Homo sapiens: one gene and its partner. The protein of the gene in region 2 purifies or fractionates together with the protein of the main gene of each other region. This does not show direct contact. Each region holds a gene or a part of one and is shown on either strand. Other genes may lie near its edges. The genes, in order: INPPL1 and RRM2B.

Evidence for each region.
Region 1: the proteins of RRM2B (region 2) and INPPL1 purify together in Homo sapiens (affinity purification with mass spectrometry; 3 studies listed by BioGRID and IntAct, with this or other methods). This does not show direct contact.

Annotation. Positions count from the first base shown.
Region 1 is NC_000011.10:72,234,767-72,243,010, reverse strand, and holds the end of INPPL1 (phosphatidylinositol 3,4,5-trisphosphate 5-phosphatase 2), read right to left. Parts: intron 7,896-8,244; coding exon 7,808-7,895; intron 7,716-7,807; coding exon 7,560-7,715; intron 7,337-7,559; coding exon 7,258-7,336; intron 7,166-7,257; coding exon 7,025-7,165; intron 5,888-7,024; coding exon 5,215-5,887; intron 4,970-5,214; coding exon 4,836-4,969; intron 4,749-4,835; coding exon 4,658-4,748; 3' UTR 3,864-4,657; downstream 1-3,863. Other genes in the region: PHOX2A (paired mesoderm homeobox protein 2A), read left to right, coding at 1,722-1,909, 2,729-3,262. UniProt on the Homo sapiens protein: Phosphatidylinositol (PtdIns) phosphatase that specifically hydrolyzes the 5-phosphate of phosphatidylinositol-3,4,5-trisphosphate (PtdIns(3,4,5)P3) to produce PtdIns(3,4)P2, thereby negatively regulating the PI3K (phosphoinositide 3-kinase) pathways.
Region 2 is NC_000008.11:102,230,289-102,247,826, forward strand, and holds the start of RRM2B (ribonucleoside-diphosphate reductase subunit M2 B), read right to left. Parts: upstream 8,674-17,538; 5' UTR 8,587-8,673; coding exon 8,539-8,586; exon of another isoform or gene 8,535-8,538; coding exon of another isoform or gene 8,271-8,534; intron 2,017-8,270; coding exon 1,861-2,016; intron 1-1,860.

The DNA of each region.
Region 1 (8,244 bases), on a different chromosome or scaffold from region 2:
CTGGGAAGACTGCCGGGGACCCAAGTAGAAGACTGGGGCCTAAGGGCCAGGCGCGGTGGCTCATGCCTGTAATCCCAGCACTTTGGGAGGCCAAGGCGGGTGGATCACTTGAGGTCAAGAGTTCAAGACCAGCCTAACCAACATGGTGAAACCCCATCTCCATTAAAAATACAAAAAAAAAAAAAAATTAGCTGGGCATGGTGGCCCACGCCTGTAATCCCAGCTACTTGGGAGTCTGAGGCAGGAGAATCGCTTGAACCTGGGAGGCAGAGGTTGCAGTGAGCTGAGACTGTGCCATTGCATTCCAGCCTGGGTGACAGAATGAGACTCGGTCTCAAAAAAAAAAGAAGAAGAAGAAGAAGAAGACTGGGCCCTAGGCTGGGGTTTGGGGAAGAGATACGAGAAATGAGAACCTGGATTTGGAGAAATGAGGCCCAGGGTGGGGAGATTGGGTACCCTGAGCCAGATGAGGGTAGGGATTGGGAAGAGGGGAGACAGCCTCCAGAGATACAGGGTTTTGAGACCAGAGAGATGGGGATAAGGTACAGAGAGATGGGAGCAGAGATGGAAGCACTGGAAATCCTAGGAGAAATGGGGACTCAGGGTTGGGGAGATAGAGATAAGTATCAGGCGATGGGGACCAAAGAAGATTAGAAATAGAGATGACGAAGATAAGAATACAAATGGGGTGCTGGAGACAAGAATCAGGGGAGATGGAGGCCTGGATGGGACAAAGATGAGATTGGAGACCCCTGGTGAATATGAAGACTTAAACCAGGGTTACAGACAGGGAAGGGAAGTACTGTCAGAAACACTACCTATGGGGCAGTGGAGACTGGGATGGGTATAGGAAGAGAGTTGGGGGGCAGTGTTGGCTTTGGAGGAGATGGGACATGGAGAAGGTGCCTGGGGAGGAAGAAGGAGGGCAAAGAGAAGATGGAGGAAGTCTTCTCAATGGGCGCAAAGAGAAGATGGAGGAAGTCTTCTCAATGGGCACAAAGAGAAGAGTGGCTGAGAAATGGAAAGTTGAAGAGAGATTCAAATGGAGGAAGATTAGGAAGAGGAGAGGGGGACATCTAGGGGAGAATGGGGGTCAGGGGAGTGGGGCAGAATTGAAGAAATGAGGCTTGGGAAGGGGAGAGGTGGATGGGTGGAGGGAGCCAAATCTGTATACAGCTGAGAGCCGGTGGGAAGGCTGGTGGTAGGGCTGAAAGGAGGGCCGGTGGGAGGGTCTCTGTTGCAGAGCCTTGGCCCAGAACTGGTTAGTGGGAAGACTGGCAATGCTGATGAGACCTGACAGACATCCAGGGCCAGGGTAGACAGAGGGGACAGACGGGCTGAGAGACAGACAGGAGGGAAGGGTCGGAGGCACGGTTGAATGGGGGTGCAGGGGGAGATGGAGGGAACAGGGCTTGGGAGGAGGGCGACGACGGGGGTGGGGTGGGGGAGGGAGTGTCTTGGCTGGAGTATTGGATTATGCTTTCCCCTTGGCCGCTCTTGGGGCTCAGGTCTCCCTGATCTCCCTCCGCCTTTATCCCGCCGGCTCCATTGAGTAATAGGGAGGACGCTCGGCCCCAGGCTGCCGGGACCAAGACGAGGGATCAGGCCAGGGACGGGGGAGGCGTGTGATTCCCCCGGAGCTGGACACAACGGGTTGAACTCTGCTTCTCACTCCCCCATCCTTTTTGCCCCCCCCCCGGCCCCCCTGCACACACCCGCAGTGCCCTACAAGTTCTTCCCAGAGCCATCCGGCCTGCACGAGAAGCGCAAGCAGCGGCGCATCCGCACCACGTTCACCAGCGCGCAGCTCAAGGAGCTGGAGCGCGTTTTCGCTGAGACCCACTACCCCGACATTTACACGCGTGAGGAGCTGGCGCTCAAGATCGACCTCACTGAGGCTCGCGTGCAGGTGCGTGTATGCACGTGTGTGTACGAGAGTGCGCATGGAAGGAGGTGTGGGAGCTTAATGTCTAACACCTGGGGGTAGGGGAATACAGGCAGATGCAGCCCGAAGGCAGGGCGCGGTCCCAGGGTGCTTGGGCAGCTACGGGAGGCAGCAGGGCCCGGACTTGGAGGCCCTTGGGAGACCCGATCTGTTTAGCTCCAGGCTACCTCCGCTCTGTCTCCCTCTTAGGGCAGAAAGTTCCGAGTGATGCTTGAGAAGCCAGGAGGGAGGCCGAGGGGCTAGAGGGGGAGACCCAGGGGACCTCAGGGCCGAGCTGAGGAGGAGAGGGGGCAGGCCAGTCAGCACCCCTGGGGTTCCCTACCCCGGCGCTGCAGCTTTGAAAACCCGGAGCCCGGGAGGCTGAGTTTGTGGCAGGCACAGGGCCGAAGAGAGCCGGGCTAGAGCAGACTGTTGTCTATTTGTACAACTCCGTGTACAGATGTTCAGTTGGCCCGCCTTGACTGGATGCCCTAGACAAAAGGTTTACTGGCGCCCTAAACTGCTCTCCACGGCCCTGGAACACTCCAGGAGGGAAGTCCCAGAGCTTCCTAAAAGAAGGAATTGGGGGAAGAACTTAGAGTGAGGAGAACGAAGGCAGGGTCCCCTCCGGGAGACCAAGAGTGCTGGGAGGCAGCAGAGTCAGCGGGTGAGTGGATCCCAAGGGCAAGAACCCAGGGATCTGGAGGCAGGGGCCAGTGGAGCGCGGAGTGCAGCGGGCTGCGTGCGGAGGGCCGAAGGCCCCTCCAACTAGTAAGAACCCGGGCCCGGTTCTTTCCGAACCAGGATCTCACTCGAGCCTTGCGGCCGCGGGCTGACCCCGTGCGTTCTCCGACCCTCGTCCAGGCTGACTGGCCCCTGTGCCCGCAGGTCTGGTTCCAGAACCGCCGGGCCAAGTTCCGCAAACAGGAGCGCGCGGCCAGCGCCAAGGGCGCGGCGGGCGCGGCGGGCGCCAAAAAGGGCGAGGCGCGCTGCTCCTCCGAGGACGACGATTCCAAGGAGTCCACGTGCAGCCCCACGCCCGATAGCACCGCCTCGCTGCCGCCGCCGCCTGCGCCCGGCCTGGCCAGCCCGCGCCTGAGCCCCAGCCCGCTGCCCGTCGCACTGGGCTCCGGGCCGGGACCTGGGCCGGGGCCACAGCCGCTCAAGGGCGCACTGTGGGCCGGTGTGGCGGGCGGTGGGGGCGGCGGGCCTGGCGCGGGAGCGGCCGAACTACTTAAGGCTTGGCAGCCGGCGGAGTCCGGCCCCGGGCCCTTCTCCGGGGTTCTGTCCTCCTTTCACCGGAAGCCCGGCCCCGCCCTGAAGACCAATCTCTTCTAGCTGCCGGCCTCTGGAGGCTCCGAGCCTGCCCCCAGAGACGTCCCTGCCCCTCCAGGACCTGACAGCCCCTCCCATCCTGGCCACCCGCCTGGAAGTCCCCATCCGTCTCCACTCCCTACTGTCTCACCCCTCGGTGTGTCCTCCCCAACTTTGGAGACCAAGTCAGGGCCACTCTCGTCCTCACCCACCCTCTACCAGCAGAGCGGAGTTCTTTATACCGGGACCTCCTCCAGGAGAACCCCGGAGCTCCTTCTAGCTTGGCCTTCTTTGGATGCGGTATCACATGAGGCCTGTCCCTAACAGTGCCCTCAAAGTGAAGGTCCTCAAGGAGGATCGGCACAGCCCCCTTCCCTGGCTCTGCAGCGGCTGGGTCACCCCTTACGCTGGTGATCAGGAAAGCCCGCTGCCCCACCCCTCGGGCCCACCCGTACAGAGGCTGGTGGTCGCCGGGATAATTAATGACCACCGCCAATTCATCCCTCACGTGTCTCCTCTCTTCCCTAGCCCGTCTGGCACAGAGGGTGGACCTGTTAGAGGAGTGGAGGGGCTGCCTGGGGAATGGGACAGAGGGATTCTCTTTCCCTAATTTTTTTGGTTGTCCTTTTTCTTTGAAAAACTTGTAATTTATTGAAGTTTTACTCAATCCAAATAAAACTTAATTTATTGAAGACATCACGCCGCAACCCTTACGACTGCCCAGGAGGCTGCTTGCAAGACCCTGTCCCGGGCTGAGACCTGCGAGGAACCTCCCTCCCCCACCCTGCCGCCGTGCATCCCCAGAGCAGGGCAGCACAGACCAGGAGACAGTGAGAACTAAGCAAACTGGCACTTTATGGCTGAGATCCTGCCCCACCCCAACCAACCCCAATAATATTAAGGTGCTCTCCCTCCCCAGACCCACACAGAACAGTTTAAATAAACCCCAGCCCGGTCCTCGGGCTATTCCTTCATTTCCGGACGGACACCCGCCCCCACCCCCAGCGGGGGTGGGGAGGTCTTAGCGGAGCTCCTCCGCTGTGGTTCAGGCCCGGTGGAAGGCCGCAGAAACTGGTGAAAGTGGGGGCCCAGACGTACCCAAATGGACCCCCACAGGCACCCCTGGGGCTGGGAGGCGGGGTCCAGTAAAACAGGACAGCACCAGAGTAACCAGGGTCCTCGGTAACCATGGCAACTGACCTTCCGTCCTGAGCCTAAAAGGCGAGGGGCAGGATGCCCTAATTAGGGCATTGCAAATGATTGGGCAGCGGGGAATGCAGATCCCCAATAAATAGGCACCCCAATAAATAGGCAGAGAGATACTGCCCTGACCCTCATAACTTTTCAACCCTGGGGCCATAGCTGGGCCTTGGTAGCAGGGAGGGGCTCTGAGTTCACAGCTTCGTGGTGCCTCCGCTATCACTTGCTGAGCTGCAGGGTGTCCAGAAGGAGGCGCTTGTGAGCCGGGTCCTGCACCCCAGCCTCCTCCAAGTCCTCCTCGGTGATGTCACTGTGGAGTAAAACAGGCTGGGAAGTGAGATGGGCAAGGGGATCCTGAGGGCCCCAGCTCCGCCCCCGGGGCCAGCCCCTCCCCCACCTGAGAAACTCCAGGTCGTCCCAGCCATTATGCACCAGGCCCTCCTCATAGCGCTCCAAGCCGATGGCCCGCAGCCAGGCACTCATGCCTGCCTCGCCCAGCCCGCTGGCCCGCCCGCCCTGCAGGCACGGAGCCTAAGGAAACAGGGCATGTCAGGGGGAGCTGAGTGCCCCCCATAGAAACACCTGCAGTCACATTCTGCTGCATGCTCTGGGGAAAAGGAAGGGAAGGGCTGGGCTGATACATGTGTCTCCCAACTTCCCAGTGATCAGTTCAGGGTAGCAGGGACACCATGAGTGCTGAATGGTGGAGTGAAAGGGTACCAGTCTGTGGGCAAGCACACTCAGGCACACACAGACAGCCACCCTGCTCCACACACCTCCTCTGCCAGGTCTTCCTGGATGCTCTCCCGGATGCGGGGTGGAGGGAAGCTGAGGGGCCGGCCATAGTCCGAGGGCAGTCCCCGGGGGGGCTGCAGCTCCAGGGGGCCTGGGAGGAGCGCTGAGCGTGCAGGCCCAGCAGGGGCATAGTCCACCTCGCTCAGCGTCTTGGCCATCTGCAGCACCGAGCAGGACCGGTCATCCCCACTGGCCACTTCCCCCAGGAAAGTGCTGGCTGGTGAGGGGCCTGGGGGCAGTGGAGGCCTTGGATGGGCCTTGGGAGGTGGTGGGCCACGGGCCTCAGCCCCACCACGGCCCCGGACCACTGGCCCTGGTAAAGGATCCAGGCTGGGGGGCAGGAAGATGGCTGAGTCCGGCAGTGGTGGAGGTGGAAAGTCTGGAGGGGGCAGTGTGCCTCCAGACTCCTCATCTGAAGAACTCCCCTCTCCCACACGAGGGTGCCGGTGGTGCCCAAGCTGTGGAGCAGGCACTGTAATGGCCACTTTGTTCTTGGTGGCAGATGGGACAGGGGCCCTGGCAGGCGAGGGTGGCTCCGGGGGCAGCAGCTGGTGCGGGACCCCTTCAAGGACGTAGTAGGCAGGGTTATTGAAGCTGTTCTTGGGTGGGGGGGCCGCCACCCCTTCTGGTTCAGGAGCTCCCTCTGGCTTCAACCTGGGTGTGGAAGCAGAACGACTAAGCCAGGATCCAGGAACCCAGGTCTAAGGCAGTGGAAGCAGTGGAAGGAGAACTAGACGGGAGTCAGAAAGTCCCCTGGTCCTAGACTTTCTCATGACCTTGAGCACATCACCTGCCCTTAGTTTCTTCATCTCTAAAGGTCAGAGGGAGGATAACCCTTTGAATGGATAACCCTACAATCCCTTGCCTCACTTGCTAAGATACTTAGATCTTTCATGACTTTATCTGTAGCTGTGAAACCCAAGCTAAATGGGTCAGAATAGAGGTGCCAGAAGACAGGGCAAGAAGCCTCCAATGAGAGGCCAGGTTTGGAAAGCCTCTTGAGGCACCCACAGTCAATCCGCTGCAGAATCTTTCTCAGAGATTCAGGTGGGTCTTATTCAAGCCTAGGGATAAAACCGGGGTGACTGACAACAGCTGAAGATGAGTGAAAAAGCACCAAACTGTACCTAGGAGTTTATGTAAGTTTAAGCAACAATCGGATATAATTAGAAAGCAAGCCTCACTTTCCCAAAGTGTGACACAGAGCACTAATTCCCCAGAACGTTAATAGTTACTACATGGAAAATAAGTTTCCTGGCCCATTAAGTTTGGGAAACTATATTAAACAGAGCTGAAAAGAGGTTTCCTTCCTGTCCACATGCTCAGAGCTTTTGCTAATACTAACATGCACTGGGAATGTCTAAGAAAAGAATCTAGAAAAAGCATTTCCCAAACTCATTTGACCACAAACCCATTTCAACTGGGGCCTCTTGCAGGACAGAGTTCCAAAGAAGGTACCCTGGGAAATCCCAGGCCGAGCCATGTGCCTCCTCCAAATAGAAGGCTCAAGCTAGGTCTGTTTACATGGAGGGAGCTGTCTTAGAAACAATTTCGCATTCCATTTTTAAAGGCAGAATTGAGAGGAAAGGCTGACTGCTCCCTTTGACTCAGAGCCACAGCTAAGGGTGGCCTGGCTGGCCACAGGCATAAGGCCATGGCAGCTCCAACCACAGAGTGGCAGGGCACCTAAGCAGCTGATGATCTCCAGGCCAACCCTGAGACCCTGCAGGGGATAGTGATGGATAGAGGTGGGTGGGGGAAGGGGGGGCGGTGACAGGTTCCTCCTCTCACCTGGGGGTCAAGGGCTCCTCCCGGGGAGCTGCTCGGGGTGGGGCTGGGGGCCTCCCCGTTGGTGGCGGTTTCTCTGGTTCTTCAAATAACCTGGAGAGCGGGCAGGAGGCCTCTGTGAAGGCTGGCTTGCGGCTCCCTGACCTGCCAGGGATGCACAGGAGAGAGATGAAGTGGGGTTGACCAGATGCCCCCAGGTACCCTTTCATATGACATTCAACACAGCCCTAGCTCACCTGGGCTCCTGGCTCCCTCGGGACACAGAGGGGGCTTTGCTCTTTGCTCCTGCCTCATCCTTATCAATGCTGATCCACTCTGAGGGGGCAGGAAGGGAGACTCAGAGGAGACCTGGGCTCCTGGATCCCACAGACACCCAGTGGGCCTGCCAGCCCTTTCCCAGCTATGCCTTGGGGCAGGACTATTCCCAGCTGTGGCTGCAGAACCTCCAGGTATCCCAGAGATTCCAACATGCCCCCCGCACCCTGCCCTCCTTGATCTGTTCACACCACCCTATCTCATGTCCCAGTGGAGTCCCCACCGTAGAGCCGCTCACGGGTGCCCAGGCGCTCCGTGGGCACCCGCACCTTCATGGAGCCTCTGATATTGCCTGTCTCCTCGCCACGGTGGGATAGGAAGGTCAGGAACTGTTGGGCCGTGCTGCCGATCATGGATTTGAGTGCAACCACACACTCCCCTGAGGAGCAGATGGGACAAACCAGCAAATTACCAAGCTAATCTAGGGCCCTGTCTGGCTTCCTGTTCCCCTCAGCACCCCTCACCCCTCACCATAGGATTCATAGCCATCCATGGACTTGACTGTGAGCAGGAGGTGCTGGTCCTGCAGGTACTCGATATCAGCCAGAATTGGTTTGAGCTGGGAAGCAGGGAGGCCCAGTGAGGAACAAAGCCCCGCCACTTCCTCCTGCCCCTCCTACGCGCTGCCCCCTGACACCACTCAATCCCCACCCTCAGGTCATCTGTGCTCACTCACACTCAACTCTTCAGAGAAGAGCCAAATCCTTAATGCAGAAGACACAGCCCTATACAGGCCTTTTACAGCACCTAGCATCACTGTAACTAATTAATTTTCTCAATAGCTAACACAGGACCTGACATCTAGCAAAAGCTCAAGAAGCATCTCCTGAATGAATGAACAAACTGCAACAAGGTTCCACACTCCCAAAATAAAGCAAACGCCTTTATCCTCACTCATGCCCATGCCC
Region 2 (17,538 bases):
TATTTGAATCGTCCTATAATTAGCTACAGAACACGTACCAACCTGTAGATTTCAGTTTTTAAAAATTAGTGTTGCTTTGTTACAGGTCACATATTACCTTTGCTAAAAGATGCAAGTTAATTTCCAAATGAATTTCAAGAATCCTAAGAATCCTAAGTACCTTTTTAACATAATGAACGAAAAAGCCACCTGCGTATTCCACTCGTTCTCTGAACCGTATCTAACAAAAAACCTTTCTAAAAACCACAGACAGTTAGGGACAGTCAGGTGTGTCAAGCATTATGACCACGTATGAAAATATTGGGTGTTTGTTTTTGTGTGGTTTGGTTTTTTGCTCTATATGTCAACTATAATATAACAAAGATGTTGACAATATAACACTACAATATAACAAAGATGGGTAAGTGGGTAAAATTAGTGTAATAGAAGCTTCAAACACTGGTGCCTTCTGATTTCTAGGTTAAATTTTCCCCCTTCTGTGCATAAAATAATAGTTTACATTTATTTAGTGCCTACTAAGTGTCAACTACCATTTTAAATATCTCATAAATCCTCATAACAACACAAATAGCCAAGTACAATTAGCCTAATTTACTGATGAGGATACACAGAGAGGTTATGTAACTTTCCCAGTTCCATAGCTAGTAAGTAGTGGCACAGGATTTGTACCTAGGCAGTCTGACCCCATAGCCTGCATTCTTAACAGCATGTGTTTAACATTTATAGAATTAATGTCTTGAAAAATAGATTCAAATCTATCTATCCAAATAGATACATCTATCTATAGAGATACATATACAAACATATACAGAACAAGAGTGCTGTATAGGTATCACCCATTATATTTAAAGATCAAGACAATAACTATTTGTTCAGTTAGACTACAGGGCAATCATTTTCATGACCACTGTCCTTACCAACCAGCAAATATTTTCTAGTTTGCTGTGTTCAACTGATCTCCCAGGTGGAATTAACAAAAAGCTTTCTACAGCTGATCTATTAGTGGCAACTCTGTCACGTTTGATGTAGCTGAGGGCAGGGCCAAACTGGGAGCAGCACTGTGAGTTCCACCTGGCTGACTCGGGAGTGAGTCCACAGCCTAGAGGATCAAACTCTTCATGCAGCGGCTCATTTTGTACAATCAGATAAATCTCTCAATTGAAAGCAGAGTTGCTACAGCTTTCACTCATTTTTTGACTACAGCTGCAATTTTACTTATTCTGCTGACCTTGTAAGACTAGTCAGACAAGTCTTACTTGGCCATATCAAACTAAAAGTCTGTTTAAAAATAGAAAATGTTGGCTGGGCGTGGTGGCTCATGCCTGTAATCCCAGCACTTTGGGAGGCTGAGGCAGGTGGATCACAAGGTCAGGAGTTTGAGACCAGCCTGGCCAATGTGGTGAAACCCCATCTCTACTAAAAATACAAAAATTAGCTGGGCGTGGTGGCTGGCGCCTGTAATCCCAACTACTCAGGAAGCTGAGGCAGGAGAATCGCTTGAACCCGGGAGGTGGAGTTTGCAGTGAGCTGAGATCGCGCCACTGCACTCTAGCCTGGGTGACAGAGTGAGACTCTGTCTCAAAAAAAAAAAAAAAAAAGAAAAAGAAAAAAAATGTTCTAATATATTGGAAATAAAAATCTGGCAGAATTAGATGCCATTGTTGCAGCAGAAAACTTGTTTATAGATAGTAATCTAAACTAAAACATTGAGAACATCATATTTAGTCTCAGTAATTCCAACACTTATCTTCTACAACTGATCTTCTTCAATGTATAAGTTAAAGTTATTCAATATCCTGTAAAACAAGAAGGAACACTGCACTATAGGATGTGAATGCTCTTGGAGGCAATGCCACGTACCTCTTCTGCTGTCCAGAAGGAAGCCTGTGCCTGTTTATACATTTTCCAAATATCAGGGTACTGGATTGGAAAGATGACAAACCGGCGAGAACTCTTTCTTAGGAGTGGCTCTTCATTTGACTTTATTTCACTTTCGTTGGTGTCTGAAGATGATCTCTTTGAAAAATAAAGTACAAACACGCCTTTTATATAGACATTTCTTCTTTATTCATACCTAAACATACATCTAAGGAAGTCAGGGAGACGGCATTGGTTTGAGAGCCTGTCTGCCTGGGTTGAATCCTTACTGTTACCTGGTAGCTGACTAATACTGTTAGGAAGTGCGTGTGTGACCATAGAAAGCTGCTTAACTTCTCTAACCCTCAGTCTCCTCAGCTGTAAAATAATTCCTACCTCATAGGTTTATTCTGATGATTAAAAGTGCTTTAAACAAAGCCTGGTATATAGTAAGCACTCAAAAATTATTGTAATTATTGCTAGTTTGAGGATAAGTACAAAGCTAGACCCATAAATGTCATCATGATGGGCAAATTTCTAAGTTTGTGAACAAAATGTCCCTTTAGAGCCTCTCTGATAAGATTGCTGGAATGAATAAGCTACTGGTATAAGCTACTTTAATGTTTTTTCTTTCTACTCTTCACTGAAATAATATAATACTTATCTGAAAACTCATTACCTACAACTTAACCTTTGTTCATCTTAGCCTTCTGATACTCCAATTTGTTACTGCTATTTACATTCTAACATTACTGCATATGATCTCACTGTGGGCTGTCTCAAAGCTTTGTGAATAAAGTGAGAAACACATACCTGTATTCACACTGCTTCAAAACACGATGGCACTCTAAGAGCAAATGGTGCCATGCATATATTTTTAAAATAGCGGGAACATCAGAAGAGAATCAGAAGAGTCGCACATGTGTGAGAATGAGTATAAACAAAGGACATACAAATAAGCTAAACGTGTATAAACCAGGATTAGAACACATACAACTTCTAGACTCCTATCCAAAACTGTCTCTCTCTCTACTGTGACAGGCCCGTTATGTTCCTTACTCCAGCGTCCACCCATTGTCACCTCGCCAAAGCAACTGTTATAGCAGAGGAGGCTAAGGCTTAGCAAGAAGAAAGCCCAAAATACAAGCATACGGCTATGCAAATACAGGGGGGCTTGCGTGCTTTATACCTACTGCCATCACAGTACAGATGGTCTTGATTTTAACTACTTGTTTAAAGGTATGGGCCTCCTCAGATACAGCACTTGAGCCCTGGAGAAGAGGAACCAATTTTTATTTGTTGTGATGTTCCCAGAGCTTAGTATCGTGTCAAGCATGTTAGCTAAGTAAATGGGCTGCTAATTTCTCTTCTTCCTGTACTCAGATTTCTAGGTACCTTTAGAAAATTTTAATTTAACATAGGACCACAATACATCAGTGAGACAACCCAATAACCATTAAAATCAATCACATTTTCCCCTCTTCACATCACCCCAAAGGTCTGGGTTAGGTTCCAGATATAAGTACATAGCTCACTGCAATTTAATTCCCTGTTAATTGTCTCTAATTTCCTGTGCTTCTTGAAAGTAAAATCCATTTTCACCCTTGTAGAATCCCTTGTGCTTAGCACAGTACCTGGCACTTAGTTGGTACTCATTCCACAAATATTTGAGCAATTTTTTTTTAAGACTGGGTCTTGCTCCGTCACCCAGGCTAGAGTGCATAGATCAGAGTAGTGTGATCATAGATCACTGCAGTCTCAAACTCCTGTGCTCAAGCAATCCTCCTGTCTCAGCCTCCCAAGTAGCTAGGACTATGTGCACACGTCACCACACCTGGATAATTTTTAAATTTTTTGTAGAGATGGGGGTCATGCTATGTTGCCCCGGCTGGTCTCAAACTCCTGGCCTTTGTTATTTTTATTACTGAAATTTGGGATATACTCAAAGTATGAAAGTTGGGAACTTCTATACTTTTGTTACTGGAAGTTGGGAAGGACATCACAAGCAGTCACTCTTCAGCACCAAATGCCCTGACGATGAATGAAGTTTTTAAATGATGATAAATAACTGATCTGCTGAAGACTAGTACCTTTAAGTTAGAATGAAAGTCACATTTGTATACACATTCTCCTGTTCTATCCTGATAACCTGTAGACTATTAAGAGGAGTAGCTGGATTAGGAGTGTATTATGAGGGATTTTGCAATGTGAAGAGAAGGAGGTTAACCAACATCAACCTTTGAGCTGGGCTAGAGATGACGTATTATTTCATAATGCTTAGAAACGTGCACAAACATACATTTGAATACAATTTCAGAAAGTTCATGCATCTTGAAACTCTAGGCTCTCCACAGTACCCTCTGTGGACCTAATCTAAGAACCCATATTTTAGAAGAAAAAAAAAATGTGAAAAAAGATATGATGGGCAGGGCGCGGTGGCTCACGCCTGTAATCCCAGCACTTTGGGAGGCCGAGGCGGGCGGATCATAAGGTCAAGAGATCGAGACCATCCTGGCCAACATGGTGAAACCCTGTCACTACTAAAAATACAAAAATTAGCTGGGTGTGGTGGCGCGTACCTGTAGTCCCAGCTACTCGGGAGGCTGAGGCAGGAGAATCACTTGAACCCAGAAGGCAGAGATTGCAGTGAGCTGAGATCACGCCACTGCACTCAGGCCTGGTGACAGAGCAAGACTCCATCTCAAAAAACAAAACAAAACAAAAAGAAATATATGGGTGCATGAGAGAGCAGCCTACTAGACATAGAAATTTCAAAGCTCATGGGTATCTATATTTTTACAGGGTTAATAAAAGAGCAAAATTGGTTAGTAGTAATCTGATTTTTAAAAAATTTTGGAGGTTAAAGTGGTCTGCTTTGATATAAAACACTTTGGCATCTAATAACTCTAAGATGTATGCTATTGGGAGCCACTGAAGGTTTTTAATAAGGCAAATAACATAATCAGATATATCTTTTAAGATCGCTTTTCTAGAAACATTGCTAGATTAGAAGAGAAATTAGAGGCAGAAAGAACAATGAAAAGATTATTGTACTACCCATCTCTTGCCTGAACTAGAAACACACACAAAAATTGATTTAAGTGATATTCAGAAGTAGAATGAATTATTCTTCCTAAAAATTTGAATTTGGGACAAGGGGCAAGAACAGTTAAAGATGCCCTTGATGTTTCCAGCTCCAGTAACTGGGTGATAACAAGATCTAAAAGGCACACACAAGGTGCTCAGTACCTGGAGAATAAATAAATAAATCAGACAAAAATTTTGCTTCTCACATTAGATGTTTAACGGAAGTTTAATTTAACTCCTCCCACCAAGCCAGGCGACAACAACAAAGTTACAAACACAATATCCTCACAAAGTCAACTAGGTCATTAGAAGAGATAATGAATTCAGGCCCGGCGTGGTGCCTCACGCCTGTAATCCCAGCACTTTCGGAGGCCGAGGCGGGCGGATCACAAGGTCAAGAGATTGAGACCATCCTGGCCAACATGGTGAAACCCCGTCTCTACTAAAAATACAAAAATTAGCCGGGCGTGGTGGCGTACGCCTGTACTCCCAACTACTCGGGAGGCTGAGGCAGGAGAATCACTTGAACCCAAGAGGCAGAGGTTGCAGTGAGCCGAGATTGTGCCACTGTATGTACTCCAGCCTGGTGACAGAGTGAGACTCCGTCTCAAAAAAAAAAGAATAGAAAAGATAATGAATTCAGTTTCAAGATGTCCAGTAAGCAGTTAAAAATATAACACTGCAGAACACGAGTGATGGAGATCCCATTAGTGGTTGCCAAGGGAATGGATGTGATTATCCAGAGAGAACATATAGAGCAGCAAGACAACTGAGGATACAGTCTTAGAGAATGCTGATATTTAAAGGGCAGATGAAAGAAGAGAAGCCAGCTGAGATTAAAACAGGCTGAAATGGATGCAGGACAAGGAAAAGCAAAAGTAGGAATGATGTGATTTGGCTAAAGCAAAGGATCTAGACTCTTAAGATAAATCAGACTAAGAGGTTAGGAATCAATTTTGTGGCCAAAGATCTTCAAACATCGGAGGTCTAGAAGGCTCATACTCCAATTCTCCCCATTTGCCCCCAACCCCAGGTGCTGGCGTTCATAGCAGGGTACAGTTTGAAAATCTGTACCCCACAGATTTGGGGGTACAAATAGTCATGGAGAGTTTCTGAATGGGAATTAACATGAATAGAGGTGGCATTAGGAAGACTAATCAGAAAACCACGTATAGGATTAATTGATAAAAAACTAGATTTTGCAAGCAACTAAGGAACCAATTTCAAAGATGGAAATGAGGACTTGAATTAAGATGTGGCAGTTAGCATGAAAAAAGCAGCTTCAACAAGACTTCACCAGCCTGAGGTGTTGGCCAGGCTTTTTGGTAGGAATTGAGACTCTTTTGGGAGTTTTTTGGGGGACACAGGGTCAGTGACACTGAGGCACTGGTCTAATGAAGGATTAACTTGGCAATGGTAATTAGGATTGAATGGCAGGTAAGATAGGAGATAGAGAAACAACAAAATTATTATAGCCGCACAGGTGTAAAGTGATGAGAATTTGAAATAAAGTTTAGCAGTAGGCATTCCTTAGTGACATTCTGCTGTTTTTTCCAGAATGGTACTTCCAGTTTCCGACTGACTCAATTTCTGGTCACCCAGTTGGAAGACATGCCTGGGCATGTCAGGACAACAATTTAGGTCAAGATTTCCCAGCAAGCACTTACGATGCCCCAATCTAGGCTGGCATCATACCAGGCTCTTACCTCCTATCCAGCCCCAATTCCACCACTTCCGTTTCTTTGCCTTTATGTCTCTTCTACTTCTGTAAAATAGCTGTATGTTGTCATAGTCATACACTACTTGTAAGTATTATTTTCACTTCTATTCCCACAAAGTCTGACGGAACCAATGGGATACCCGCCCAGGTGCAAGAACTTGGTTTTAAATTTAGCTCCTCTACTGAGTCCTGGGCATGCCATTTAATGTTTTCTGGCCTAAACTTTACCTTGACAATAGACTATGAATTAGATTAGCAATAGTTAACTCTGAGAAATTGACAATAACTATGGACCCCTTTCTCAGAAGATTCACATCTGCACATACAAAATCTACATATCACTTCAGGAGATTTATAAAGCCCCTTCTAGTCTATCTATGGACCCTTTAAGACAGTGGGGGGTTTTTTGTTTTTGTTTTAATATGTGTACCAGGATCACCTGAAGTACTTGTTAAAAATGCAGATCTCAAGAGATTTTGATTCACTATGTTTGGGGTGTTGGTCCAGCAATTTACATTTTTTACAAAATACTCCAAGTGACTCTGATGCAGGTCTCCTATTATGCACTCTGGCATCTAGAAAAACAAAGTGCTTCAGGCAACCCAGCATCTCAAGTTAAAAACTTTTGGACCACTAAAATTCATTCTGAATCTAAAATTCTGTCTGTCCTTGCGGGTCTGTATCATTGAGATAGGAGTAATAAATAAAATGTAATATCCAGGTGTTAAGCCTGAATCACTGCTGGTGCCATTAGCATAAACAGCAGTCTGAATTTTCCCCTTTGAGTAGGGAAGTTGGTACTAAACGCATTTGTTTCAAAACAGGAAGAAAAAGCTTGAGGGATATTTACAGTTAGTTACTAAATGCTTACAAAAATCAAGTTAAATAAAATAAAATCTCAAACCTGGAATCTACAACTTTCTAAAGAAATGTAGGGCCAAGCATGAATCTCTTGGGGTGGAAACGTTTGTTTCCCCCAAATCTTCACAGTATTAAATCAAAGATACCACAGCAACAGGTTCCAGTAGTACAAAAAGCATTTCTCTTGTCCACAAAGGGCTTAGAAGTATTTGCAAAATGACAGTGTTTGAAAATTATACAGCAACAGTTTAAACTACCATACAATCCTACAGTCTAACAAATTCTGGTTTATTTATTTTAGGTACTTTTATCAGCATAAACAACTTGGATGAACAACTTGGGCTTATTAAGCACCTACAATTTTCGTGGCACTTTGCATAAAGCATTTTACTTAATTCTCTCTGAAGTATCACTTCCATTGTATAAAGGAAGAAAGTGACACCCCGAAGATTCAGTTAGTTAAGGAGCCGGGCCTGAGCAAAACTGGCCTCCTACCCTGATTTTTTCACTGGGAGGAGGTCATGAGGATTTCGTGTCCCCTTCTACCTGTCATCTTCACCCCAGCCACCTGTGTCAATTTCCACACGCGTTCTCCAACTCCTTGTCACCATCCCAAATGGTATGCACCTCTCCAGCAGAGCCGCCACAGTCCTCTTTCCTTGCCTCGGTTTCCCTGGCCAGGGCTCCAAAACAGGGAAGGAGGGTGGGAGAGCGTGAGGCGGATAAACGCAGGGGTAAGTCTCACCCCGGCCTGAGGCCTCCAAGCGTCGTCCTTGGCTGGCCCCGGGGCAGAGCAGCGAGCGGGACGCAAACCCAAAGTCAGCTCCTTCCTCCGCCCTCCCCGGGGACGGCCTCCCCGGCGCTCGCAACGACGAAGCCAGGCTGCGGCGAGGGCGGGCGGACAGGCCTGTCCTGACCGCGGCGAATAACATTTCCTACAGCGGTCCTGCAACTTGCAATCTAACGGGCTGGCGTGACTGCGGTGAGGGGGAAGACGCAACAGCAACATTTACCTCATCCTGATCCAGCCCGGCCGCTTCCGGCCTTTCCGGGTCGCCCATCGCGCAGACTCCGCCGAAGCTACGGGCGCTGAGGGAACTGAGCTCCTCAGGCCACCTCCAACTACGACAGCACCCAGGTGGTCCGCTGGTCCGCTGGGTCCGCCCCGCCCCCAGCTCTAGGGACTCGGCCGGCCCCGCCCCGCCGCGCCGGTCCTGCTTTCTCGCCTGTCCATTGAGTGACTCTCCCTGCGCCGGCCCGGCCCCGCCTCCCCCGCCTCGGGGCTCCGCCTAACTTCGGCCAGCCCCGCCTCCCCGCCTGCGGCCTAAGGGTTTCTCCCCGCCTCGGCCGACCCGCCTCCCCTACTGCGGCCTAAGGGATCCTCCCCGCCTCGGCCTGCCCTGCCTCCCAGCCTGTGGCCTAAGGGATTATCCCTGTCTCGGCAAGCCCCGCCTGCCTTGGGGCACCGCCTACCTCTGCCAGCCACGCCTCCCCTGCCTCGGGGCTCCGCCTACCCCGGCCAGCCCCATTTCCCCGCCTGCGGCCTAAGGAAATCTCCCTGCTTCCGCTGGCCCCGCCTTACTCTGTTGCACCGCCCAGTCGCCCGGCTTTCCACTGAGGGACGCCCCCTGCTCTGGACTGCTTAGCCTACTCCAGCTGGCCCCACCTCACCTCATCGGCCCCGCCTCCTCCGCTCGCCCACTCCGGGCGCCCACTCCTGAGGAGCTATCCCAGAGTCCGCGCGGCCTCGCCTTCCCGGCCCGCTCACCACCCCGCCTCGTCCCACCTCGCCTCGCCCTCCCCGGGCTCTAGCCACTTGGTGCGGCAGGTGTCCTGCAGGCCGGCTCGAGATTCCCGAGCTCGCCCTCGTGGTGTTCCAGGAACACGGTACTTTGCGCTAGCCTGGCCTGTCCTGAGAGACTGCGGGAGGCGAAGAGAACGCGCTGTTGCTGTGGGAAGCGCCGGGGACGGGACAGCTACACCGCCAAACACTTCGCTAGGGAAAGGGCTGGCTGGTTTCGTGCGTAAACAACCGAAAAGGGGAAGTGTCTGGGGGAAAGTGTGTGTGTGTGTGTGTGAATGCGGGTGAGTGAGGGGGAGAGGGACACGTTACTAAAGTCAGGCAAATATTTTGAAAAAAATATATTTTGAAAAAAATAGTTTGGTCTAACAAAAATAAAATGGAAGAGAGATTTGTTTAAGTAGTTTGAAGCTGAAAGATTGACGGGATCTTGCCATGACCTGAACAGCATGCACCTGTTTTGTGGCTGGCTGAAGGATGGTAAATAGGATCAAGATCTCACTTTAAGCGTTGAAAATGCTGAAAGCCCTTTCTCAAACCTGCCATAGCGTAGGGGTAGACAGTCTTTCTTAAAGCAACTACTAGGGGTCAAATGCTGAGTGAAATTTTTTTCATCTGTGAACTTTAAATAATAGCCACATACATTCTGCTAGGCAACTGAGTCTCAATTTACTATAGGCCACGTGGCAAATAATCAGATTCAATTAAAGTCATCAAACAATAATTGTGTGTCGGGCATCACGTTTAGGTATTCAAGATACAAACATGAATGAGTTTGGTGAAAAAGTCATATCATCATGGGCATGAATTCTAGTTCCCTCACTTATTAGCTATGCTACCTTGGGTCAATTAACCTCTCTGAGACTCAGCTTTCTCATCTACAGGATAAGAATAATAATCCCTTCCTCATAAGGTTGTTGTGTGAATTTAATAATATATTACTTGTAAAACACTTATTGGGGTGGGAAATTACCTTGATGCAATGGTAGCTTCCACGTACGAGTCAGGCCATCCCAGAGGGTCATGGAACTCAGATGGCTGAGTTCAAAAGGCTCAGATCAAATTGAGATGCCTGAGTCACACAGTTTATTAAATCAATTTATTTTCATTTTAAATAAGTTTATTCAAACAAGACATTTGACTTGAAAGGAAAACTAGGATTTTTTTTTAAGAGTAATGTGTCATTACTGAAAGATTGCCTTACATGTAATAGCCACGTACAAAGAGTTATAAAATTGTCTTGGCTAGGCCGGCACGGTGGCTCACGCCTGTAATCCCAGCACTTTGGGAGGCCAAGGCGGGTGGATCACCTGAGGCCAGGAGTTCGAGACCAGCCTAACCAACATGGCAAAACCCGTCTCTACTAAAAATACAAAAATTAGCCGGGCGTGTTGGCGCATGCCTATAATTCTAGCTACTTGAGAGGCTGAGGCAGGAGAATAGCTTGAATCCTGGAGGCAGAGGTTACAGTGAGCTGAGATTGTGCCATTGCACTCCTGCCTTGATGACAAGAGCAAAACTCAGTCTCAAAAAAAAAAAAAGAATTGTCCTTGGCTTTACAATCATAAACAAAATACATTACAATTCTTCAACTGAAGAAGATATGCAAAAACTGTTATGGTGTTTTGTTTTGTGTGTGGGGTTTTTTTGGTTAAAACAGAGCAAAATAACGAACTGGAATATAAAGATAAGACCTGAATGAGCATGGCATTAATGGAGAAGGGAGTCTTCACAAAACCATATTTCTCCGCCCATCCTATCTTCATTTGATGCGGATCAAAAGATAACATTGGGGCCAGGCGCAGTGGCTCACGCCTGTAATCCCAGCACTTTGGGAGGCCAAGGCGGGTGGGTCACCTGAGGTCGGGAGTTCGAGACCAGCCTGACCAACATGGAGAAACCCCATCTCTACTAAAAAAATACAAAATTAGCCGGGCACGGTGGCGCATGCCTGTAATCCCAGCTACTCGGAAGGCTGAGGCAGGAGAATCACTTGAACCCGGGAGACGGAGGTTGTGGTGAGCCAAGATCGCGCCACTGCACTCCAGCCTGGGCAACAAGAGCAACACCCCGTCTCAAAAAAAAAAAAAAAAAATTGACCATTTGGTTAAAAAATGCAATACGCTTTTATGCATTATAACTATGGCATATACAATATGCCATAAAGACTATATGAAGATGTAGAATTCTGTTACTCCTAGAGATCTTGCAGTTACACATTTAATTGTTTACATAGTTACATTGTAACTAATATATACATATAATAAAGTAATGGGGAAGAGGAAAATGATAGAGAAAACTATACTGTAGTAGTCAGGGTGTGATGGAACCAAATCGCAGTTTTCTAATTGAAAATGCATTCTTGGTCCGTAAGAACAGAGTTCTGTAATAAAGTAGCAGGCTCCATTTTTAGTCAAAACCTCCTGTCCTTGGAACACATTAATTGTATCTTTAGCCTCCATCTTCAACTTTACAGGTGTGTCTATTTCATTGATTGGTTGCACATGAAGTCTAGAATCTGATCAACCTCATTGCCTAACCCTGTTCACAATAGGCTTTCATTAATTTACTAAGTGGTATACACCTTTTTTTTTTTTTTTTTAAGACGGAGTCTCATTCTGTCACCCAGGCTGGAGTGCAGTGGCGGGATCTCGGCTCACTGCAGCCTCTGTCTCCCAGGTTCAAGTGATTCTCCTGCCTCAGCTTCCCGAGTAACTGGGATTACAAGCACCTGCCACCACACCTGGCTAATTCTTGTATTTTTTTTTAGTGGAGACGGGGTTTCACCATGTTGGCCAGGCTGGTCTCGAGCTCCTGACCTCAGGTGATCCGCCCACCTTGGCCTCCTAAAGTGCTGGGATTACAAGTGTGAGCCACTGCGCCCGGCTGGAATATGCCTTTTAATCTTAAACTGCACCACAGACCCATTCTGCCCTGCCACCTTCAAATTAATAGGATTGTTGTTCTCAATCTTGCCTCCTTCTTTGGGCTTTCTGTCAGCCAGAGTCTTCTTAGCTGCCACTTCACAAAACAGGTGCCAGTTCTGTGCCAAACAAGCACACAAGCTGTACCCTATTAAATCATTTTAAAACATAACAGCAAGGGGAAAGAGATTGAGTGGACTAACATATTTTGGTTAGGATGTGGGGAGGGGAGAGAGTGGAAGGATTATACCATCTGAATCTTAATGTTACTGTTCGTGTACTGTTTGATGCATCAGACTTCCTTGCTGGTGGTGTAGTTATGAGGACCATAGTGAGGATGAGCAAGACTGCTCAGCAGGTAGAAGGTGGAGCCAGCACACACTTTTCTTTTGGAGAACTGCTGGAACCTGACTCCAGCTATAACTGCATTTATAACCAGTTATAATTAACCTACTGAGCAGCTATGGATGGTATCTGTGTTTCTTGGACAGAGCACGTGTGGGGCCAGAGTGGATCTCACCAGTGAGTGGCTGGTTTAGGGATAACATAGTTGTCAGTCTGGCAGTAACATGATCATTACCTTATGAATATTTAAGATTTATTTGGGGCTGGGCACCGTGTCCCACGCCTGTAATCCCAGCACTTTGGGAGGCCGAGGTGGGCAGATCACCTGAGGTCGGGAGTGCGAGACCAGCCTGACCAACGTGGAGAAACCCTGTCTCTACTAAAAATAAAAAATTAGCCAGGCGTGGTGGTGCAAGCGTGTAATCCCAGCTACTCGGGAGGCTGAGGCAGAACAATCGCTTGAACCTGGGAGGCGGAAGTTGTGGTGAGCTGAGATTGTGCCACTGCCCTCCAGCCTGGGCAACAAGAGCGAAACTCCGTCTCAAAAAAAAAAATTTACTTGGTCCTTCTAGCCCTTTTAATCTAAAAGTGGAACTCTCATGTGTTCCATTATTTTTGTGTATGTTCAATACATATATGTTCCATTCATCCTATTTTTAACATGCCTCACAGTGTAATTATTTATTATTTATACTTAATACATCTTACAAATTTCATTATGTCTAACAAGCCATTTGCTCCCATACTTAGTTTCTCTCAATTTCTGTGGCAGAATTGAATATTCTTAAATGACACAGCAAAAACATCACAGTACTCAGAATAGTGTAGGCAGTGTGAGTTTCCCCCAGGATGTTCAAAGTTATTGGAAGAGCAAATGGAAAAAAATAACACGCGTAACTGAAAGATCTCAAGGAGTAAGAGGATTCTGCATCTTCATATGGACTTTATGGCATATTGTATTTTCCAAAAATGGCCACAACAATATTTCTGGTACCATATGCTGTTCCAGAACTTGGATACACCTCCCCTTAAAAGGTGGTGTCTAATGCACTTCCCTTTGCATATAGGCCATCAATATTAACTTTTGTTTGTTTGTTTGTTTGTTTGTTTGTTTGAGACAGAGTCTCGCTCGGGCACCAGGCTGGAGTGCAGTGGCACGGTCTCGGCTTACTACAACCTCCGCCTTCCGGATTCAAGTGATTCTGCTGCCTCAGCCTCCCGAATAGCTGGGATTACAGGCGAGTACCACCACATCCAGCTAATTTTTTTAATTTTTAGTAGAGACGGGGTTTCACCGTGTTAGCAAGGATCATCTTGATCTCTTGACCTCGTGATTCACCTGCCTCGGCCTCCCAAAGTGCTGACATTACAGGCGTGAGCCACGGCACCCGGCTATTAATACTAACTTCTAACAAATAGGATACAGTCAAGTGCCATGTAACATTTTGGTCAATGATAGACCCCATATATGGTGGTGGTCCTATAAGATTATAATGGAGCTGAAAAGTTCCTATCATAGTGACGTTATAGTCATAGCACAACACATTACTCATGTGTTTGTGTTGATGCTACTGTAAACAAATCTGCCAGTGTGTAAAGTATAGCTTATATAATTATGTACACTACATAATACTTGATAGTGATAATCTATATTACTGATTTATGTATTTACTATAGTTATCATTATTTTAGTGTATACTCCTTCTAATTATATATATAAAAAAATCAGTAACTGTAAAATAGCTTCAGGCAGGTCCTTCAGGAGGTATTCCAGAAGAAGGTATGGCTATCATAGGAAATGACAGCTTCATGTATTTATTGCCCCTGGAGACCTTCCAGTGGGACAAGATGTGGAGGTGGAAAACAGTAATATTGATGATCCTGACCCTGTGTAGGCACAGACTAATGCATGTGTGTGTCTTAGTTTTTAACAAAAAAAGTTCAAAAAGTAAATTATTTTAAAAAATAGGAAAGAGTTTATAGAATAAGAATATAAAGAAAGAAAATTTTGTGCAGCTATGCACTGTTTTAAGCTAAGTGTTATTACAAAAGAGTCAAAAAGCTTTAAAAATTTAAAACGTTTTTGAAATACAGTTACAGTAAGGTAAGGCTAATTTATTGAAGAAAGAAAAATATTTTTCATAAGTTTCTTGTAGCCTAAGTATGCAGTATTTATGGCATCTACAGTAGTGTGTAGTAATACTCTAAACCTTCACATTCACTCACTGACTGACTCACTTAAAGCAACTTCCAGTCCTGCAATCTCCATTCATGGTAACTGCCCTATACAAGTGTGCCTTTTTAAAAAAACCTTTTATATCATATTTTTACTGTACCTTTTCTATGTTTAGATACACAAATACAATTGTGTTTCAGTTGCCTACAATATTCAGTACAGTAACATGCTGTACAAGTTTGTAGCTTAGGAGCAATACCACATACAGCCTAGGTGTATAGTAGGCATTACCATCTAGGTTTGTGTAAATACACTCTATGATGTTTGCACAACAATGAAATAATCTAATGACACATTTCTCAGAACATATTCCTGTTGTTAAGTGATGCATGACTTTTAAGCCTCATTCATTAAGGACACTACAGATAGCTTTGGTGTTGTCTCTCTTTTGGGCACTTTCCTTGGGAGCTTAGGTACCATGCTAAAGGAAGCCAAAAACTAGCTCACACAGAGAGACTACATGGGAAGTCCACATGGAAAGCAACTGAAGCACCAGCCAACAGCTAGCATCAACCTCCAGATGTGTGAATGAATGAGCCTTCAGAGGAATCCAACTCCTAGCTGTCATGCCTTCCAGTTGAAAACCCCAGAAATTATGGAGCAGGAAAAACACCATCTTGGGTTCTGTGCAAATTCCTAACCCACAGAATCCACGAGCCTAACAAATGGTTGTTTTAAGCCACCAATTTTGGGATAATTTGTTATGCAGCCATAGTAACTGGTCCAGCATCCATTCCACTTAGAGATTTGTGTGGTGATCGCCTAGGAAGACAAGCTAGCCTTTTGTATAGAAAATATGTAATTTCAAGCTATTGCTGTCTTATTGTATGTCATTTACTGGGTAAATCCTCATTTCTCAAACTTGATGTCTCAACACCCCTGCCCTTTTTTTTTTTTTTTTTTGAGACAGAGTCTTGACTCTGTCGCCCAGGCTGGAGTGCAGTGACATGATCTCGGCTCACTGCTGTCTCTGCATCCCAGGTACAAGGGGTTCTCCTGCCTCAGCCTCCTGAGTAGCTGAGCCTACAGGCACACACCACCATGTCCAGCTAATTTTTGTATTTTTGTAGAGATGGAGTTTCACCATGTTGGCCATGCTGGTCTCAAATTCTTGACCTCAAGTGATCCGCCTGCCCTGGCCTCCCAAAGTGCTGGGATTACAGGTGTGAGCCACCGTGCCTGGCCTCAACCCCTTTTAAATAAAAAAATTTTCACAGCCACTTTGATATTGACTTAAACTACATATGTATTGTTACTTAAGTATGTACAAACCTAAGACCAGTAATAAACTCCTTATTCTTGGAGCTTTACACAACTAAAAGTAGATCTATAAATTAAATACAAACAAGACTATAGAAATGGTAAAATTCCAGTTTACAACCAAAAGCAATGGATGATGATGTTGCTTTGCTGAAACTATATTGCATCAGTGTGAATTTTATAGTGACCATTAATGAAGCATGTTTTTTTGCATCGTAGCCATGGGATAACTTTTTCTACAACTCTTTTTATCAGTTGCCTTTCATAAGGAACAAATGTGTCATTTACATATTTAATTCCATTCTTTAAGTTTTTATGTATTATTTGACATCAGTGCCATCATAAATGGTCAACCAGGTAATTCAAGATACTGCATATATATATTAAGAATCAAAATAAGATGCTTGTGGAAAATTGGCAGATCCTGAACCCTAGTTTGAAAATCACTAAACAGGTCTATATTTAATGAGCCATTCATTTATAATTCAGGAAGGCCTCCAGTGTGAAGGAAGGTGAAAATTTTGGAATTAGATTGGTTTAGAGCTAGTTGGAATAGGCCCAGTACAGGATAAAGCAAGCTTGAAATAAGGCAGTGGTGGTGGGGAATGCAAGAAGAATCCGTGCATGTGAGTTAAGTAAATGTACTCAAGATGACTTGATCAGTGGTTGGATATGGAGTGTAGGGTAGAGGGAGGATTCTAGGATGACTACAAGTTTTTTTTTTTTGTTTGTTTGTTTTTTTTGAGATAGAGTTTCGTTCTTGTTGCCCAGGCTGGAGTATAATGGCACGATCTCGGCTCACTGCAACCTCCGCCTCCTGAGTTCAAGCGATTGTCCTGCCTCAGCCTCTCAAGTAGCTGGGATTACAGGCATGCGCCACCATGCCTGGCTAATTTTTGTATTTTTAGTAGAGACTAGTTTCTCCATGTTGGTCATGCTGGTCTCGAATTCTCAGCCTCAGGTGATCTGCCTGCCTCAGCCTCCCAAAGTGGTGGGATTACAGGCGTGAGCCACTGCGCCCAGCAATGACTACAAGTTTCTAATCCAGAGACTAGGCAGTTAGCAGTGCCTTTTGCCCATGAAGTCTTAGTAGGAAAATAGTGAGTTGTTTTGGACATGTCAAGATCATGATTCTCATGAGATCCAACTGGGGGTTTCTAGTAATGTGGTTCAGAACTGATTGGCTCAGCCATTGATCTGATCCAGCTGTGACAACCTGAAAGCCATACTTAGCAACCCGTCACATTAATAGTAAGTAAAGCAGTTTTTGCAAAAGAATCAACAAGCAATATAGATTTTTTCTAAAAAATTTCGAGTTCAGTACAAAGAACATTTTCCCTCTTAACTGTTTCAGAATAAGTTGCTATGTCTAGGCTAAATGCAGAAGAAAAGAAGTGAGACAACTTTCTTTTACTCGTAAGTGTGAGAGCATTGGAAGGACAGGAGT